3 linked regions of the Homo sapiens genome follow. The protein of the gene in region 1 purifies or fractionates together with the protein of each later gene. This does not show direct contact. Each region holds a gene or a part of one and is shown on either strand. Other genes may lie near its edges. The genes, in order: ANO6, ANAPC4 and MIA3.

Region 1 (3,654 bases):
GTTCCTGGCTTATAACTACCATAACTCTTGCTATAATGTTGGGGTGCTTTAGGCCTCAGAAGCAGAAGCAGGCCTCAGAAAACAATCTCCATCTTTGACCTGCCCTATTTTTACCTTTGTCTCTCCAATTTTAGAAACTAAAACTATAATCTTTCCCCATCTTTCTGTGTGAGAACTGCCCATAAAGAAATTCTCCCATCTACCTTGTCTGAATGTAGGCCATAAGACCCCCATTTCAGAAGGGATCCTGCCCCATACCCTGGAGGAAGGAATGCTGCACAGAGATGCCAGAAAAATCTGATCAGACAGGCCTTGCTGGGTTTCCCCATTCAGTCTATTAGTATTAAATCGTATGCTTTTTGTCCAATCACTTTTCAACATGGTTCAATCATGACTATCCAATGAAGTCTCCATAAAGGTCCAAGAGGACTGGTTCAGGGAGTTTCTGGATAGCTGAACAGTGGAGGTACCTGAAGGTAGCTTGCCCTGGGAGGGCGTGAAAACTCAGTGCCTTTTCCCGCATACCTCACTCTATGCATCTCTTCATCTTTATCTTTTATAATAAACTGGTAAACGGGAAGTGTTTCCCTGAGTTCCCCAAGCCACTACAGCAAATTAATGGAACCCAAGGAGGGTGTCGTGGGAACCCCAATTTATAAACAGTTCATCAGAAGCATAGGTAAAATGACCCGGGGCTTGTGATTGGCATCAGAAGTAGTGGGGGGCAATTTTGTGGGACTGAACCCTTAACTGTGGGATCTGACACCATCTCCAGGTAAATAGTGTCAGAATTCACTTGGAGGATACCCAGCTGGTATCCACTGCAGAATTGATTGCTTGCTTGTTGCTGGGGAGAAATCCTTGCACATTTGGTCACTGAAGTCTTCTGTGTTGATTGTTGAATAAGAGAATAGAAAAAACACTTAGTGTTTTTCTGCTCACAGCCTCCCTCCCCTCCCAAGTCTGTCACAAACCCAGAAAGTTGTTAATGATCCTCTTAGCCCAAAGTGCTCACAATGAATTCTCACTTATTTTTTTGTTCTATGCAGTTAGCATTCATCCTGTATTTTGTCTTTGTTATTCATTATCTTTGCGTTTATCATTCCCATAACCATAGTGTACATTTCTTGGTGACTGGCCTAGGTTATTTAAGTCTTCTAGAGATCATGCAAAATATCTTAAATATTGTACATATTCCATTGCTATAATTTTTAAGAGTTGTCTCTTTTCCTCATTCTCCTCTAAAATGTAAGCTCCCTGAAGACTGGTACCTTGTGTGTTTTGTGTTTTAAGCTGTGTCCCTCATGGCACCTTGGTAGGAGCCAAGCAAGTAATTGTGGAAGGAATGGATGATTTATTCTTCTAAGATAACTTGATTAACATAATGCCTAGTGGTTTTATGGCCCTAGTAGAATTTTCTTCTTCTGTGGCACTTTGAGATACCCCCAGTTATCTGTTCTAAAAATGCTGAGTGTATGTATTTTACCAGGCACTCTGCTAGGTTCCAGGTTCACTGTTCTCTAGTACCTCACTGTCTAGAAAGGAAACGGATAATTTCAGTAACTTGTGATTAATACTGTAATCAAGATCTGTACCAGGTTCAGTGGTGATACCAAGGAGAAAGCACGTGACCTTGCCTAGGGGAATCCAGGACAGCTCTATTGGGGCAGCACCTGAGCCAGCCCTGTTGGGATGAAAAGACAGGTGAGGGCATGGGGCTAGGACAGCAGAGCGTCCTGAGTGTTTCTAAAGGCATGATGATTTCTCAAAAATTAAATCTTGATACACCCTGGCCTTATTCACGATGGCAAGGGGATCATGTTGTGTACATATCATAAATATATACACATGTATAAATATGTATACATTATATATACATATGTGTGTGTGTGTCTGTATGCACACTCTCTACCAAGGAGATGACAGCTAAAAACAAAGCAAACTATCCTCAAACTCTCTTTTAGAATAGTCTTGCTTCTTTTTATAAACCTTTTGTTATTTTCAGTTTCAAGTCCACAGACATGATTTATCTTGCACATTCTTTCAAGTCAAATAATAGCTTTCCAAAAGGTCCTCCAGTATCCTCTTAAAATACTTTATTTGGTTCTGAGACAAACACAGCTCTAAAAGAATAAGAGTTACTCTTACTTAATTTGTATTTTAGCTGTATACACACTCGTCTTTTCTCAAGGGGTTGCAGCAGTCACATATGTCGATTGCTCTACATTTATTATTTTTTCTTTTGGGAGCCTAGAAATTTAGACCAAATGCTCCTATGAAAATTTCCATCAGTTATATGGGATTTTAATTCTGATATTCTTGAAGGGAGATTATAAAGGATTAAGAATACCGGAAATAAAGGGCCGGACATGATGGGTCATGCCTATTATCTCAGCACTTTGGGAGGCCAAGGTGGGAATATTGCTTGAGCGAAAGAGTTTGAAACCAGCCTGGGAAACATACTAAGACCCAATCTATACAAAAACTGCAAAAATCAGTTGGGCATGGCACATGCCTGTGGTGCCAGCTGCTTTGGAGGCTGAGGTGGAAGATTCAATTGAACCCAGGAAGCCAAGGCTGCAGTGAGCTGTCATTGTGCCACTGCAGTCCAGCCTGGGCAACAGAGACCCTGTCTCAAAAAAAAAAAAAAAAAAACTCACGATTTGGCTTTAAATTAAAGGATGATATTGATCTCTTAGTGATATCTGTAGCAGATGATTAAAATGATTGTATTTTAATAAGTTTTCACTCTAATCCTTTAGGTTTTCTTCTGTTACACTTTACTTGGTGTGTATTTTGTATTTTAGCTGTACATCTTAACCAAAAACACTCGTCTTGAAGCGGGGAGAAGATTTCTTATTCATCTTTGTATCTCACAGCCTGAATATCGTAATGTTTTTCACATAGTAGATGTTCAACAAAACATATGTTTTGGGACATTTTTAGATTTTTTTTTTTTGAGATGGAGTCTTACTCTTTTTCCTAGGCTGGAGTGCAGTGGCAAGATCTGGGCTCACTGCAAGCTCCACCTCCCAGGTTCACGCCATTCTCCTGCATCAGCCTCCCGAGTAGCTGGGACTACAGGCACCCACCACCACGCCCGGCTAATTTTTTTGTATTTTTAGTAGAGACGGGGTTTCACCCTGTTAACCAGGTTGGTCTTGATCTCCTGACTTCGTTATCCTCCCGCCTCGGCCTTCCAAAGTGCTGGGATTACAGGCGTGAGACATTTTTAGATTTTAATGGAAGCTTTGCATGCCATATGATTTAAGCTGTCTGATTATAATGAATTCAGGGCTGGGTCTGTGCAAGAGTAGTCAATTTTAGAACAGAAAATATTTCCAATTACCTTTAGCCAACGAAATGTACTACTCAACTGATTGGTAAATCATATGTAAAGATACAGATTGAAGGAATTTTATTCAGCCAAATGATTGTCTTATGACATTATTTTTTTTTCTTTAGTTTTGTATTTTGGTCATTGCAACTAAAATTAATTAGCATCCATCCCAAAAAGCAGTTTGAAGAATACTGGTAGATGAGTATGTCAACAATAGAATATTTTGGACATGGACCAAAGAGCAATTCAAATACTGTTCAGCCAAAACACATCAGATGGAACACTTGCATAGAAGACAAGTTGAAGGGTTAATA
Region 2 (3,754 bases), on another chromosome or scaffold:
TAGAAGTTCTGAAAAATAAATCATATTTAGAACGCCATTGGTAGCTTAAAAATGGTTTTAAACCTGAATTTGAAGAAAATGTTGAGACCACGATGTAACCAAAAAGAAATAATTGGGTTATTTCTATTCCAAATGTCTTTGGTGACTGTGTGATTTTAAACCAAATTGGTTTATCTATCTAGGCATTTAAACAAGTTCTCAGTGTTCTAAAGAAGTACATGTACTGACCCTGACAATCATGTTCTTTTAAGCCTTTAGATTATTGACTATCCAGGTTGTTCCACAGAGTCTCTTTTTTTCCCCCTTCTTTCTTGAAGATCTGTGAGTAATGGACTAATTGCTATTAAATTTGGGAGCTTTACATATGCCACAACAGAAAAAGTCAGAAGAAGGTAAGTCTTGAATCTTGTTTGGATGAAATGTAGATACATGTGATATGTGTATATGTTTAGGAATAGGATCAGACTCAGTTACGGTGGTAATATAGGTAAAAGGGCTTTGCCACTTCCCACATCAAGGGCAGGATTCTTTGTGTATTTATACATAGAGAATGATTTGACTTGTGATTGAATAGAACCTTACTGCCCTGCAGTTTATGTCGTACGGTTTCCTATAATTAATACTCCTGAGCTCCCTGTTGACAAAGAAAGTAATGTGGTTCCCATGGGCAGATGGCCTGCAGGGCTGAAGTTCTTGTTACGACCAAAAAAAATTATGAGGTGATGCCATTCTTAGTGATGGGAGATTTTCTTAGGATTCAAAATGGTAACAGTACCTAAGCCATCCCTGAGGCTTCGCAAGGGAAAGAAGTGACTAATCATAGGCTGATCTTTTTCTCACTTTTTTCCTCACATAAAATAAGTTTTTTTATGATAAAGTCCTTGGAGTTGCTGTGCCTATTTTTCATGTGTAGTATCTTATTTTTATTTCTCAGTCTAGTCAACTCTGCTGAATGTGTATATAAGGTGTCATTCATAGAATTTCCACAGGCTTAAGGCCTAACCATTGATGGCCAGGGGCTTTCTAGAACTGAAACAACTTCACAGATTTTTGGGGGTCATGATTACCCATTTTTAAGATTTGGTTATATATGTGAATAATCAGTACAAAAAGTAACTGATTTTAATACAAACCAATGATATATTTTAAATGTTATTGTACAGAATGTCACTTAACTTTTAAATTTTTTTCTGCTTGCTGCCAGTATAACATGCATACAATATTTTCTCAGTAGTCACGATCATCTTTGATATAACAAAACTTATTTTAATTCTAGCATCTACAGTTGTTTAGATGCACAGTTTTATGATGATGAAACTGTAACAGTAGTTCTTAAAGACACTGTAGGACGTGAAGGAAGAGATAGACTCTTGGTCCAGCTGCCTTTGTCTTTAGTATATAACAGTGAAGATTCTGCAGAATATCAGTTCACTGGGACTTATTCTACAAGGTAACTAGTAACATTGTCTTTCTGATATTACAGTTAAATGTTTTTTTAATGCACATTATAAATTCCAACCTTTTAGGTACGCTAGATAATGGTTATTTCGTTACTAGAGATAACCACAGAGGTAGCTGAGCAGAAATGCTCCAATTTTTCATTCAAAATATGCTGGCCTTAATAGCTTTTTTTGTCCCTTTGCTTTACTAGTAAATCAGGAAGTATTTGCTGGAATCAAGGTGGGGAATTATTTGGAGTGGATAATGGGACTTCTTTTAGTTACATTTTTAAGGATAGCATTAACCCTAGTTGGTTGGAATTAGTTATTTTTGATTTGCCTTCAGTATTTTCCTTCCAGAATTAAGACCTCAGTACCCATGTAGGAAGTATACTGTCAATTCCAAGAGATGGCTTTAATTGACTGAGACTTAAGTAAGCAGATCTCTAATTTAAAAATGTATCCATTTGCTTTCTTTGAAAGGGAGTCAGAAACCTTGCTAAGATGATATTCTGCCTGTTTGGAATTACAGTATTTCTTTTCTTTTTTTTTTTTGAAACAGGGCCTCTCTTTGTCACCCAGGTTGGAGTGCAGTGACGCAATCATAGCTCACTGCAGCCTCCAACTCATGGGCTCAAGTGACCCTCCTGCCTCAGCCTCTCATAGCTGGGACTACAGGCATGTGCCACCTTGCCTGACTAATTTTATTTTTTTACAGAGATAGAGTCTTACTATGTTGCCCAGGCTGGCCTTGAACTCCTGGACTCAAGCAATCCTCCCACCTTGGCCTCGCAAAGTGCTGAGATTCCAGGCATGAGCCACTGTGCCTAGCCAGAATATAGAATATGGAATTTTTATAGAATATTATATCACAGCTTTTTTTCTAACACAACAGTTGCTAAAATTATATTGGAAATAGAAGTATGAGTAGAAGTCAAAACCATAATTGACCCTAATACCACCTGTAGTAAAACTAGGGAGGATAAGATCCCCTTTTCATTCCTGAGTTGGTTTTTTTCCCTCTTTAGGCTAGATGAACAGTGTAGTGCTATTCCCACCCGTACCATGCATTTTGAGAAGCACTGGAGATTACTGGAAAGTATGAAAGCACAGTATGTTGCTGGGAATGGTTTTCGAAAAGTGTCCTGTGTGGTAAGTGTTTAGAGATCGTTCAGCAACTAAGAAATTACAAGAAGTAACGTTGCTTCTTTGGAACCTTCATCAAATACATGATATATAAGGTCCTTTTGTGCAAATATTTTTACTGTGATTTATAGCTTGTATTGATTATGATCATGTGGTGGCCTTAGCTATTTAGTTCTTGTTCTGATAAAGCTTACTAAGTAGTTAATAATAATACTAGATTTTAATCTCACGAAATTGCCACTGTTGTTATGTGGAGATCTTTTTATACAAAATGAAGGCTGAATTTATTGATTTTGTTGTAAATTGATGGGAATATAACTTTCCTATAAAACCATTCTTTGATTCAGACTTCTGATTTCTAATTCTTTATATATGATAAGCCATTAATTTAAAAATGCTTTTATGGCCTTTTCTTTTTTAGTTAAGCTCAAATCTTCGTCATGTGAGAGTATTTGAAATGGACATAGATGATGAATGGGAGCTCGATGAGTCTTCAGATGAAGAGGAGGAGGCCAGTAATAAGCCTGTAAAAATAAAGGAAGAAGTGTTGTCGGAGTCAGAGGCAGAGAACCAACAAGCTGGTGCTGCCGCTTTAGCTCCAGAGATAGTCATTAAAGTGGAAAAACTTGACCCTGAGCTAGACTCCTAATCTAGCTTGCCATTATTGTGTGTGTAATTATGGCCAAAAGGACATAGGAGATGGACTAAGATGTCTTGGACCACCTTTGTGTAACAAAGAAATAAACAGTAAATTTTATTTTTTCATATTCTGCTTCATCTTCTCTTAGTGATATAGTCACTATGATAGACTTTATTTTTTCTGAGCTTTCTCTTTAATGCTATGTGCAGAACTAGTGTTTAAAGAAAACAGGGCCAGGCATGGTGGCTCATGCTGGTAATCTCAGCACTTTGGGAGTCTGAGGTGGGTGGCTCACCTGAAGTCAGGAGTTCAAGACCAGCCTGGCCAACATGGCAAAACCCCGTCTCTACTAAAAATACAAAAATGAGCTGGGCGTGGTGCATGCCCCTATAATTCCAGCCACTTGGGAGGCTGAGGCATGAGAATCGCTTAAACCTGGGAGCCAGAGGTTTCAGTGGGCTGAGATTGCGCCATTGCACTCCATCCAGCCTGCGTGATGGAGTGAGACTCTGTCTCAAAAAAGAAAGAG
Region 3 (3,654 bases), on another chromosome or scaffold:
TTTGCATTTAATTAAAACATATATTTTGGATAAGAAGGCAATATTCAGATGAATTTTCAGGGTAAAATATGAGGCTACAAGGAAATTCACCTTTGCTGTGGATCACATTGGACTGTCCCCTAAGCCTCTTAGGAGAGGAGATGGCTTCACTTTGTTTGACTCTTAGAGGTACTTTGAAAGTATTCGAAAGACATCTCAGCAAGCTGCCTTGGCGTGGAATGTCCCTGTCTGTACTAGTTCTGTGAGAAAGGCATGCTAGGGTATGCAAGAGTTCATGTTACTTCTCTGCAGAATAGATGTTTCACATTTCTGCTCTTGAGTGGAATTCTCATTTGCACATTTATTTGTGTGGGTGTAGGCTGATTTGCCAAGGAAAGATGTTACTGAAGTCCCTACCATAAATGTATTTATTTATGAAATACTCCTCTGTAGATTTTATTATGTAGATTAGTCATCCTTTAAATGGAATAAAAGAAACTGAAACTCTTATTTCCCTGCCCAGTTGTGCTCCATGGGATGCCCATGCATGGAGGTCAATGTTGAGGTGCCCTGGTGTGGTCAGTGGGATTAGCCTAACAGGTAGTGTCATCAAGCTGTGCTAGCCCAGTGTATTCTTCTCACCCTAGAGATGCAACCACTGCATGAAGATAATTTCTCACGAGAGAAGACAGCAGAACTTAATGTGCAGGTTCCTGAAGAACCCACCCACTTGGACCAACGTGTGATTGGGGACACTCATGCCTCAGAAGTGTCACAGAAGCCAAATACTGAGAAAGACCTGGACCCAGGTAAAGCCTGCTAATTTTTTTCTACAAAGTGGAGAAATCATAAAGAAGGCCTTCTAGGAGATTCATTGTCAAAGGCAGGAGCTAGAGACTTGTTAAATTCAAAGGAAAAAAGGATCCCAGAGCTAATTGAGAGAAAAGCAGGCGTCAAGACAGATGGAGATCAAAAATAGGAAAGACACCAGAGACTATAACTAACCTACAAACCAATGTTTGGCTGTCACTATCTTGTGTAAATTATTTCAATCTAAAATATTATTCTTAAAAGGCCTTATGCTCTAAAACAGTAGTTTTCAACCAGCCCAGCAGCATCAGAAACTCTGGGGGTGGAACCGGCAATCTGTGTTTAACAAGCCCTCCAGGAAAGACTGACCTGATGCAAATTACAGTTGGAGAACCACTGCTCTAAAACTCACAAATTCTGTTTTTCCTCTACTTTACCCCTCTCTTTCCAAATAAAATACAATGCAATGCAGTTCTTTTTTTTGATTTGCTATCTGGACATGGTAAGTAAAACTTCTTAAAATACAGTGAAGGGGTCCAAGTATGTTTATAGCATAAGCTCATAGGAGACAGTACAGAACACTGTAGTGTGTAATAGTCCAGGATAGACCGACACAAAGAGTATTTCACCACAGTGCACAGTAAACATCCAGTGAGAGATGAGAACGTTTACTTTCCAGGCACAGTGCCTAATATTTAGTGGATACTCAATAAGTATTTTTTAAAGAGAATTCTTATTCTAAAGCACAAAATGTCTATCTTTCCTCCCAATTCCAGGGCCAGTTACAACAGAAGACACTCCTATGGATGCTATTGATGCAAACAAGCAACCAGAGACAGCCGCCGAAGAGCCGGCAAGTGTCACACCTTTGGAAAACGCAATCCTTCTAATATATTCATTCATGTTTTATTTAACTAAGTCGGTAAGTTTAACATAGTTTTTTTTTAACTAAAATGTTGATTATTACAGTTTTTAAGTTGATTTTGAGCATGAGGTGAAGAACTTAAAATGTCTTTATGAACCTGACTCCTGATCCTTTGAAGAGAGACCCTGAAATGAGCCACAGGTGTGTGGCTTTAATGGGCTCTTAGTTCAGCACATGAGGAGGCTTTGCTGCATGCTGGAGCTGGGCACAAGCACACCTGTCAAACGTGGTTCTTCCTTTCAGGGACCTTTCAGTTTAGCCAGGAGAGAAAGACAGTCACTTGAAATGTAACATGATAATGGGCAGGAAGAGAAGTATTTACCTGATGGTAGAACAATCTGTGGCATAAATTGGTTCATCGTGGAGGGAGAGTGATAGGAAAGGCCAGAAATTCGCTGAGATATGCTTTAAGCAGATTCGAAAGAGATGGGAGCTTGACTTGGAGTTGTCAAATAGAAGGGCTAGGGGAAGGATGTGGGCAGGGGGGCGGGCAGCATGCAGTCAGGCAGAAGAAATAACACATTCAGAGAAATGGAGGCATGAAGAAAAGGTTATTTGGGGAAGCCAGGGAAGCGTGGGTAGTTGGTGTTTTTTCTTTTTCTTTTTTTTTTAAATTGAGACAGGGTCTTGCTCTGTTGCCCAGGCAGGAGTGCATTGGCGTGATCTCAGCTCACTGCAACCTCTGCCTCCTGGGCTCAGGCGATCCTCCTGCTTCAGTCTCCTGAGTAGCTGGGATCACAAGTGTGCACCACCATGCCTGGCTATTTTTTGTAGAGGTGGGGTTTTGTGATGTTGCCCAGGTTGGTCTCGAACTCCTGAGCCCATGGGAGCTGCCCACCTTGGCCTCCCAAAGTGCTGGGATTACAGGCGTGAGCCACCATTCCCGGCCAGTTGGTGTTGTTAAAGTGTGGAGTTAAAATTAGCTGGGCAGGGTGGTGCACACCTGTAATCCCATCTACTTGGGAGGCTGAGGCAGGAGAATAGCTTGAGCCCGGGAGGCAGAGGTTGCAATTAGCTGAGATCGTGCCACTGCATTCCAGCCTGAGCGACAGAGCAAGACCCTGCCTCAGAAAAAATAAAAATAAAAAAGTATGGAGTTAGGAGGGAGAAGGTCTGTTGGAGGGACTCAGGGAAAGTCAGAAAGGAAATTGTACACCATAGTGAGTGGTCAGACCATTGTTGGCAGAGATCCTTGGAAGATTTTAAGCAGGAAAGGGATTGTCAGGTCTGTTTCTTAGAAAGAGTCACTTATGGCAGAATATTTATTCAGATCTTTCTAAAGGGAGCCATGCTCCAAATGAGACATTTAATGTCTAGAAGCTTATCTAGGCTTTTTAGGACTTAGCTCCCCCTTGTGGTACTCGGTGGAATTGGACTTTTTTTCTTGGTAAATTAGAGGACTAAGCAAGCTCTTGAAGTTGGAGGCCAGGTTGCCCTTAGGGCTACAGAGAAAGTATGCTTCTCACCAAAGCCATTTCCTTTAGGTTCTGTTATTTCAAGACTCGAATAGGAAAGAGCGTTCTTGTTGTTTTTCTGTTAAAATCCATGGGTTTCAAGCCAAGATGATTTTATTTCAAATCCCAAAGCTATCGATTAGAAGTTTAGGGCAAATTACTAAACTTTGAACCTCAACTTTCTCATCTGAAAAATTTAGATAATACATACTCCAATTGTTGGTAAGAATTAAATGACATGATAATGTAAAATGTCTGGTGTAGCAACTGGCATTTTGTAAGATCTCATCCCTCACCTAATTCTCATTTGGATGGTCAGAGGGCATATAAAGACATTGAATACCTGAGGGTTTCAGGAGAAAGACCACCAGGATGGAAAACAAGTAGGAAAACCAAACCATTTTTCAGTATTATTCATGTTTGTTCTGGTGATAGCCACCTGGGTGAAGGTGTGTATTATCTTTGCAGTTGGAATAATGAAGTTTT

What was found.
Region 2: the proteins of ANO6 (region 1) and ANAPC4 purify together in Homo sapiens (affinity purification with mass spectrometry; 2 studies listed by BioGRID and IntAct, with this or other methods). This does not show direct contact.
Region 3: the proteins of ANO6 (region 1) and MIA3 purify together in Homo sapiens (affinity purification with mass spectrometry; 2 studies listed by BioGRID and IntAct, with this or other methods). This does not show direct contact.

The regions. Positions count from the first base shown.
Region 1 is NC_000012.12:45,222,548-45,226,201, forward strand, and holds part of ANO6 (anoctamin-6), read left to right. Parts: intron 1-3,654. UniProt on the Homo sapiens protein: Small-conductance calcium-activated nonselective cation (SCAN) channel which acts as a regulator of phospholipid scrambling in platelets and osteoblasts.
Region 2 is NC_000004.12:25,415,149-25,418,902, forward strand, and holds the end of ANAPC4 (anaphase-promoting complex subunit 4), read left to right. Parts: intron 1-251; coding exon of another isoform or gene 252-258; exon of another isoform or gene 259-317; coding exon 318-392; intron 393-1,276; coding exon 1,277-1,450; intron 1,451-2,467; coding exon 2,468-2,591; intron 2,592-3,006; coding exon 3,007-3,234; 3' UTR 3,235-3,350; downstream 3,351-3,754. UniProt on the Homo sapiens protein: Component of the anaphase promoting complex/cyclosome (APC/C), a cell cycle-regulated E3 ubiquitin ligase that controls progression through mitosis and the G1 phase of the cell cycle.
Region 3 is NC_000001.11:222,631,539-222,635,192, forward strand, and holds part of MIA3 (transport and Golgi organization protein 1 homolog isoform 1 precursor), read left to right. Parts: intron 1-626; coding exon 627-788; intron 789-1,565; coding exon 1,566-1,711; intron 1,712-3,654.